Homo sapiens: one gene and its partner. Each later gene encodes a partner of the first gene's protein in a complex. Each region holds a gene or a part of one and is shown on either strand. Other genes may lie near its edges.

What was found. The genes of interacting proteins can lie anywhere in the genome.
Region 2: UBE2J1 (region 1) and FAM8A1 share a complex: the UniProt entries of both Homo sapiens proteins name them as parts of the HRD1 complex.

The regions. Positions count from the first base shown.
Region 1 is NC_000006.12:89,339,014-89,342,761, reverse strand, and holds part of UBE2J1 (ubiquitin-conjugating enzyme E2 J1), read left to right. Parts: intron 1-306; coding exon 307-438; intron 439-3,748. UniProt on the Homo sapiens protein: Catalyzes the covalent attachment of ubiquitin to other proteins. Functions in the selective degradation of misfolded membrane proteins from the endoplasmic reticulum (ERAD) and is essential for cells to recover from ER stress.
Region 2 is NC_000006.12:17,598,726-17,602,473, forward strand, and holds the start of FAM8A1 (protein FAM8A1), read left to right. Parts: upstream 1-1,576; 5' UTR 1,577-1,684; coding exon 1,685-2,396; intron 2,397-3,748. UniProt on the Homo sapiens protein: Plays a role in the assembly of the HRD1 complex, a complex involved in the ubiquitin-proteasome-dependent process of ER-associated degradation (ERAD).

The DNA of each region.
Region 1 (3,748 bases):
TTCAAGGATTAATTTCCAATTTAAACCTGTAAGTTACTTATGAATATATAACAACACTCAGAAATTTTTAATGTGTTTATTATAAAATATTTTAGCTCAATGGAACATGAAAGCTAGATTAAATAGCTTTTACTTATAAATTTAATTTATCACTTATAGTCTCGAGACATCTCATGCATTAGAAACTATACTAGCAATAATATAAAGCATTTAATTTTTCTTGCTTGGTAATATTTCTAATATTCAGATAAAATGATCAAACTTTTCAATATTATTAATTCCTTGTGGATTATTGTTTTTGTTCAGGATAACCTTTTTGAATGGCACTTCACGGTTAGAGGGCCCCCAGACTCCGATTTTGATGGAGGAGTTTATCACGGGCGGATAGTACTGCCACCAGAGTATCCCATGAAACCACCAAGCATTATTCTCCTAACGGTAAGAATTTTGGATTTTTAGAGTGCTTGTGGCTTCACTCTTCCTGGTAGCTGCAAAATATAGTAAGCAAATCATTTTCATTAAGAAATAATAGAACAGTATAATTTTGCTTTTGGGGTCCAGGCCCTGGGACTACAATTTTTTTCCTCCAAAATAATTCCTAGGAAGCTGATGCATCTGAGAAGTAAAAATGATACAACTGAATGCATAAATGTCATATCATGGTTGTTAGGATTCAATGAATTAATATATGCCAAGTGCTGGGCATACACATCTGGCACTTCATAAGTACTCACTAAAGGGTAGCTAATGTTATTGTACCTTGTAATCATATTGTCTCCTTTAACTTCCCACCTTTCTTACACTCTCTTCCTCAGTTTTCTCATCTTTACAATGAGAATAATGATACCTACCTCATTGAGTTTATGTGGGATGAAAAGTATCAAGATCTTATTGTATAGCTCTTAGAATAGAGCCTGACACAGAATACTCAATAAGTGTTAGCATTATTATTACTGTTTATATCTCAGATTTTCTCTCTTTCTCTCCAAATTTACACATCTTTTCTTCATGTGAAGGAAAACTTTTTTTTTTTTTTAAGAGACACGGTCTTTCTCTGTTGCCCAGGCTGGAGCGCAGTAGCACGATCATAGCTCACTGTAGCCTCAAACTCCTGGGCTCAAGCTATCCTCCCACCTCAGCCTCCTGAGTAGCTGGGACTATAGGCACATGCCACTGCACCCAGCTAATTAAAAAGTTTTTTGGTAGAGACATGGTCTCATTGGTCTTGAACTACTGGCCTCAGGCAGTCCTCCCATCTCAGCCTCCCAAAGTGCTAGGATGACAGGTGTCACCATCATACCTGGCCAAGGAAAACTATTGATCTAATTCCTCTTTAATTGTTAAGCTTTTCTTCTCTCATTTCCTTTAACTATGTTTAATTATCCCCTAACCTTGAAAAAAGCAAAAACAAACACAAAAACCATTCCCTGTATCTGTTATCACTTTAAGCTGTGCCTATTTTTCTCTTTGGTAACCTCCAAGGCATCCTTTCCGTAGTTTGGCCTGCTGCAGTCCACCTTCCACACATAGTGCCCTGTTGAAACATGAAACTACACCAATCTCAGAGACCAGTTTGAGAAATCTCACTGCTTCTCCTCAGCCTTCATCCTGTTCTCAGTTAAACATCTTACCCACACGGAGTAGCAAATGGTGAAACAACAGGTATTCATCAATAAATACCAAATTAGGCCGGGCGCGGTGGCTCACGCCTGTAATCCCAGCACTTTGGGAGGCCGAGGCGGGTGGATCATGAGGTCAGGAGATCGAGACCATCCTGGCTAACAAGGTGAAACCCCGTCTCTACTAAAAATACAAAAAATTAGCCGGGCGCGGTGGCGGGCGCCTGTAGTCCCAGCTACTCGGGAGGCTGAGGCAGGAGAATGGCGTGAACCCGGGAAGCGGAGCTTGCAGTGAGCCGAGATTGCGCCACTGCAGTCCGCAGTCCAGCCTGGGCGACAGAGCGAGACTCCATCTCAAAAAAAAAAAACATAAATAAATAAATAAATAAATAAATAAATACCAAATTAATGCTGCTTTTACCTCTATTTTGTATAACAGAGAGAACATTTGTTTAAGAGCCAATAGGCCTAGATTCTGACTGGTGCTCTTTCCATTACACTATGGGTGGGTTACACAATGTCTTTAAAATTGTTTTCTCATCAGTCAAAATGAATGTTGTGTTTGGTAATTGTAATCACACCATAAAGTACCTGACATATAGAAGCTGCTTAATAAGTATTAGCTGATATAGAGAACTGCTAATGCTGGCAGTAGAGTTGGAGCAGGGTCCTGGAGACACTCTACTGTGTCAGGAGTCATTTTATTTAGTTGCTAGATCATGGGGAGAGCTAAGTGGTCTTCGGGGAGGGAGGGGCTGGTGCATGGGGAGACTGGTGGTGGTGGAGGACAGTAGTTAGCAGCAGCTCTTTACCAACAAATACAGGTATATTTCAATAGTTAGCCAATGGTATGGTCATACTAACCACACTGGCTGAGAATCAGCCCTGATTTTCAACATTACACTCTTTCTGGTTCACTTCTTTTTTGAAAAGTCTTCTCCAACTTTCATTCAATAAGTATTTATTTATCCTTTCATTCATCACTCCTCTGAAAATCACACCTCTCTCAGAGCCTTTCTCCCCATGTCTTTCCTCACTAACATCTAGTTAGGTGATACTGAGTCCTTAGGTTTCGTCCTGGCCTCTTGAATGTCTTCTCTTTTAGATTCTTTTTTTTTTTTTAACTTGAGATAGGGTCTCACTCTGTCACCCAGGCTGGAGTCCAATAGCATGATCACAGCTCACTGCAGCCTTGATGTCCCACACTCAAATGATCCTCCCACGTCAGCCTCCTGAGTAGCTGAGACTATAGTCACACATACCACGCTTGGCTAAATTTTTTTTATTTTTATTTTTTGTAGAGACAGGGTTTCACTTTGTTGCCCAGGCTGGTCTCAAACTCCTGGCCTCAAGTGACCTTCCTACCTTAGCCTCCCAAGTGCTGGGATTACAGACATGAGTCACCATGCCTGGCCTCTTTTAGATTCTTAACTGAGCCTAGCTCCATACTAGGCACAGGGTAGGACATTAGTAAATCCTCTCCCCTCCCCTCCCCTCCCCCACTCCTTCCCTCCTCCCCTTCCCCCTCCCCTCTCCTTCCCCCCTCTCCTTCCCCCTTCCCCTCCCCACCCCTCTTCCCTCCCCATCCCTTCCCCCCTCCCCTCCCCACTTCCCTCCCTTCCCCCCTCCCCTCCCCTCTCTCCTCCCCCATCCCCTCTCCTCCCCCCTCCCCCCCTCTCCTCCCCTCCTCTCCTCTTTTTTTTTCTTTTCTTGGGGACAGGGTCTCACACTGTCACCCAGGCTGGCATGCAGCAATGCAGTCATAGTTCACTGTGGCCTTGAACTCCTGGGCTCAAGTAATCTTCCTGTCTTAGCCTCCCAAGTAGGTAGGACTAGAGGCACATGCCACCACTCCTGGCTAATTTTCTTTCTTTTCTTTTTTTGGTGACAGTGTCTCACTAAGTTGCTCAAGCTGGCCTTGAACTCCTGGCCTCAAGTGATCCTCCTGCCTCAGTCTCCCAGAGTGCTAGGATTACAGGCGTGAGCCACTTCGCTGGCCAGTAAAACTTTACATGTTAATTATTTAGATTTCACTTGTGCAACTCAGTTTCAAAAGGTGCTGTAAAACACCTTCTAAAAACAGCTTTTATTATTCAGCATCCAACAAGTATTTTTGGAGTCTATAAGGA
Region 2 (3,748 bases), about 72 Mb from region 1:
AAGGAAAAGAAAAATTATCTGACCTACCTTGTTTAACTGTTGTAGGCCACAGCCCCCATTCCAGAGGGTCCTGTTCCATACCCAGAAGGAATGAATGCTGCAGACAGGCCAAGGAGAATCCAGATAGGCCTTGCTGGGTTTCTTGCCTGTTTGCATCAGAGTGTTTTTTGTCCAGTCATTTTTTTTGAGACGGAGTCTCGCTCTGTCGCCCAGGCTGGAGTGCGGTGACGCAATCTCGGCTCACTGCAAGCTCCGCCTCCCGGGTTCACGCCATTCTCCTGCCTCAGCCTCCTGAGTAGCTGGGACTACAGGCGCCCGCCACCACGCCTGGCTAATTTTTAGTATTTTTAGTAGAGACGGGGTTTCACTGTGTTAGCCAGGATGGTCTCGATCTCCTGACCTTGTGATCCGCCCGCCTCAGCCTCCCAAAGTGCTGAGATTACAGGCGTGAGCCACCGCGCCCGGCCTTGTCCAGTCATTTTTTTATACGGCTGTCCATGCTTTGTTGAACCTAAGCATACAAATACACGATTTCCCTTGTTATCTTTGGGTCTTCATTCTGAAGGCTCCCGTGTCACATAAAACGATGGTCAAATCAATGTCTATGTCTTTTCTCCTATTAACTGCCTCCTGTCAGTGACTTTCAGCGAAACTTCAGAAGGTGAAGCGGAAGTTTTCCTTTGGCCCGGACAGCATCATCATTAATATCATTAATAAATATTCCCACAGTATTTGGCCCTTGTATGTCCTTTGTATGGTGCTGGGGATACAATAACATATCGCTGCAGAGATTTTCAAATGTAAAAGAAGAGAGATTATACTGATTTAAAAGCTAGATTCTGTCCTCACCCTGGAGCTAGTCTGCATTTACGAAAACTTACTTTCCACTGCGGTAGACAGACGCTTTCTACTCCAGCGCAACTGTGCCTTTCCTCAAATCTAGTCTCAAATTTAGGTTCCTTTTCATTTTCTGTTATGGAAAGGCCCTCAGCGTATCCCAGGCTTTGGAGCCTTTTGTTAGTAGTCTGGCCCATGCATAATTTCCCCTTCCTCTGAATTATACATAGCACCTCACTAGTTATATTTTAATACACTTTCCTATGTCTCAGTGGTAGTTTCCTATATTAATATATATCCCAGTTTAGTTTGGCTTTTAATTTCTTTTCTTCTAAGGGGATAGATGCGTTCTGTACCACCTTCTCGAGTACTAATGGTTAACTGGAATGAACACAAGCAACAAACCCTCCGGCCTGGATCCCAAAACAACAGTCGCGGTTCTGCAACAGAAAAGGCTGCGCTGGCCCTGGGACCTGTCTCGGAAATACTCCTCATCCATCTAGTTTCTCCCAGGACAACTAGGCCCAACCCCACGGGAATATACAGAGAGGCCTCGGGTCACAGACTTAAAGCTGTAAAAGGGAGGAGGCGACGGTCTGGTCCCAGTCACCGACCAGCCACCGACTACTAGGGCCCGAACCCGGGACTGCAGACGCACCTCCCCGCCCTCCCTTCCCAGCTCCGCCTGGCGGCGGGCGTTGCTCCTGAGGGGCGGGGCTTCCGCTTCCGGCGGGGGATTGTTGACGCCTGCGGTTGCTGCGGTGGTGACGGGGCTGTTGGGGAGGGGCCATTGGGGGAGGGAAACGGAGCAGTGACAGGTATCCCAGAGGGTGCTGCTGAGGCGACGATGGCCGAGGGGCCCGAGGAAGCCCGAGGCCACCCTCCCGGGCAGGACGATGGCGGAGGGGACCACGAGCCCGTCCCTTCCCTGAGAGGCCCTCCTACCACCGCCGTCCCATGCCCCCGCGACGACCCCCAGGCCGAACCCCAGGCCCCGGGCCGGCCCACAGCCCCGGGCCTCGCGGCTGCCGCCGCAGCCGACAAATTGGAGCCGCCGCGCGAGCTCAGGAAGCGCGGGGAGGCGGCCTCCGGCTCCGGTGCAGAGCTGCAGGAGCAGGCGGGCTGCGAGGCGCCCGAAGCCGCGGCGCCACGAGAGAGACCAGCTCGGCTGAGCGCCCGCGAGTACTCCCGGCAAGTGCACGAGTGGCTGTGGCAGTCCTACTGCGGCTACCTCACCTGGCACAGCGGCCTGGCCGCCTTCCCAGCCTACTGCAGCCCCCAGCCCTCCCCGCAGAGCTTCCCTTCGGGCGGCGCTGCAGTCCCCCAGGCCGCGGCGCCGCCGCCCCCGCAGCTGGGCTATTACAACCCCTTCTACTTCCTGAGCCCCGGGGCCGCGGGGCCTGACCCGCGGACAGCTGCCGGCATCAGCACCCCTGCTCCAGTCGCGGGCCTGGGACCCCGGGCTCCTCACGTGCAGGCGTCGGTCCGGGCCACTCCAGTGACGAGGGTAGGATCCGCAGCCCCTTCGCGAAGCCCGAGCGAGACCGGGCGACAGGCAGGTGAGAAGCGCGAGGTGGAGGCTGGGCGGAGTAGAAGGGTTTTCGGGGGCCTGTGGGGTAGAGCTGGCACGCTTTTTAGACCTGTAACTGCTGCTTCTACTCTGATTGACTATCCTGCCCGTTCAGTTCACTAGCTATCGTTTGTCCAGGCCCTAAATTCCCAAAATGTACAAGGAGGCAATACAGTTTCTTCTTCCTTTAGACCTGGCACTCCAAATTGACTCCCTTACTCATGGGACTAGTTGTTTATTCGTGAAAAGAAATTGCTCTTCAAACCATCCTCTTCCTTTGGTTTTCACGCTCTGCAGTGAGGGCCAAAGCTAAATTCGCAAATGGCAAACCCACTTTTGGAGGGGCTCGACTGGTAATGCTGAAAATTATTCAGACATTGGCTACTTAGGACAGTGGAACTGAACGGATATAAAAGGAGATCGACATGGATACAAGTGGAGTTAGGAAGTTTTGATTGGGTCAAAGCTTCACTTCATTTGATCAATATCTTGTATATTGTGTAATTGTTTTTGCTTCTGTGTGTGAACTAGAATATTTTGAATTAGTTACACTTCTTAGTTTACTATTTAAACTATTAGACTTTTAGTTTATTTTAGTTAGCCACAGATAGATGGGACAAGAACTAGTTGATGCCTCTGATCCCAGTCAGAATTTAGGATGACAGATTGATACTCACTGGGTTTATTTTAAAGAAAGCAAAACAAACTAAAAAACGGGTGGGGGGGGATTACAGGGATTTACTTTATACTAATTGCCAATATTTAACCTTGATTTGTACTAAAAAATGTTTAATTTTGTGTGACTTAGATGTGATCACCTGGATTCTCCTCATTAGAATTCCTAGTGAAATGTAGTGGGTACCCTAATCAAATTTATCTGTGAAATCAGTTTTCTAGGGGGAAAGTGGGGAGGGTGGGGACAAGGTCTGCTTCTATCGCCCAGCCTGGATAGTGCAGTGGCGATCTTGGCTCCCTGCAGCCTCCGCCTCCCAGGTTCAAGCCGTCCTGCCACCTCAGCTTCCCTAGTAGCTGGGACTAAAGGCATGCGCCACCACGCCCGGCTAATTTTTGTATTTTTTGTTGAGACGGGGTTTCGCCATGTTGGCCAGGGCCAGACTGGTCTCGAACTCCTGGCCTCAAGCAATCTGCCCGCCTCGGCCTCCTAAAGTGCTGGGATTACAGACGTGAGTCACTGCACCTGGCCGTGTGAAATCAATTTTTAAACGTTAAGGTGATGAAAGCAAACTTTAAGCTCAGTAAATAGTGGATTCTCTGTTACTCTATTTTAGTAACATGGATTCTTGGTGGAATCAATATCAATAGTTGCTGCACGGTTATAAA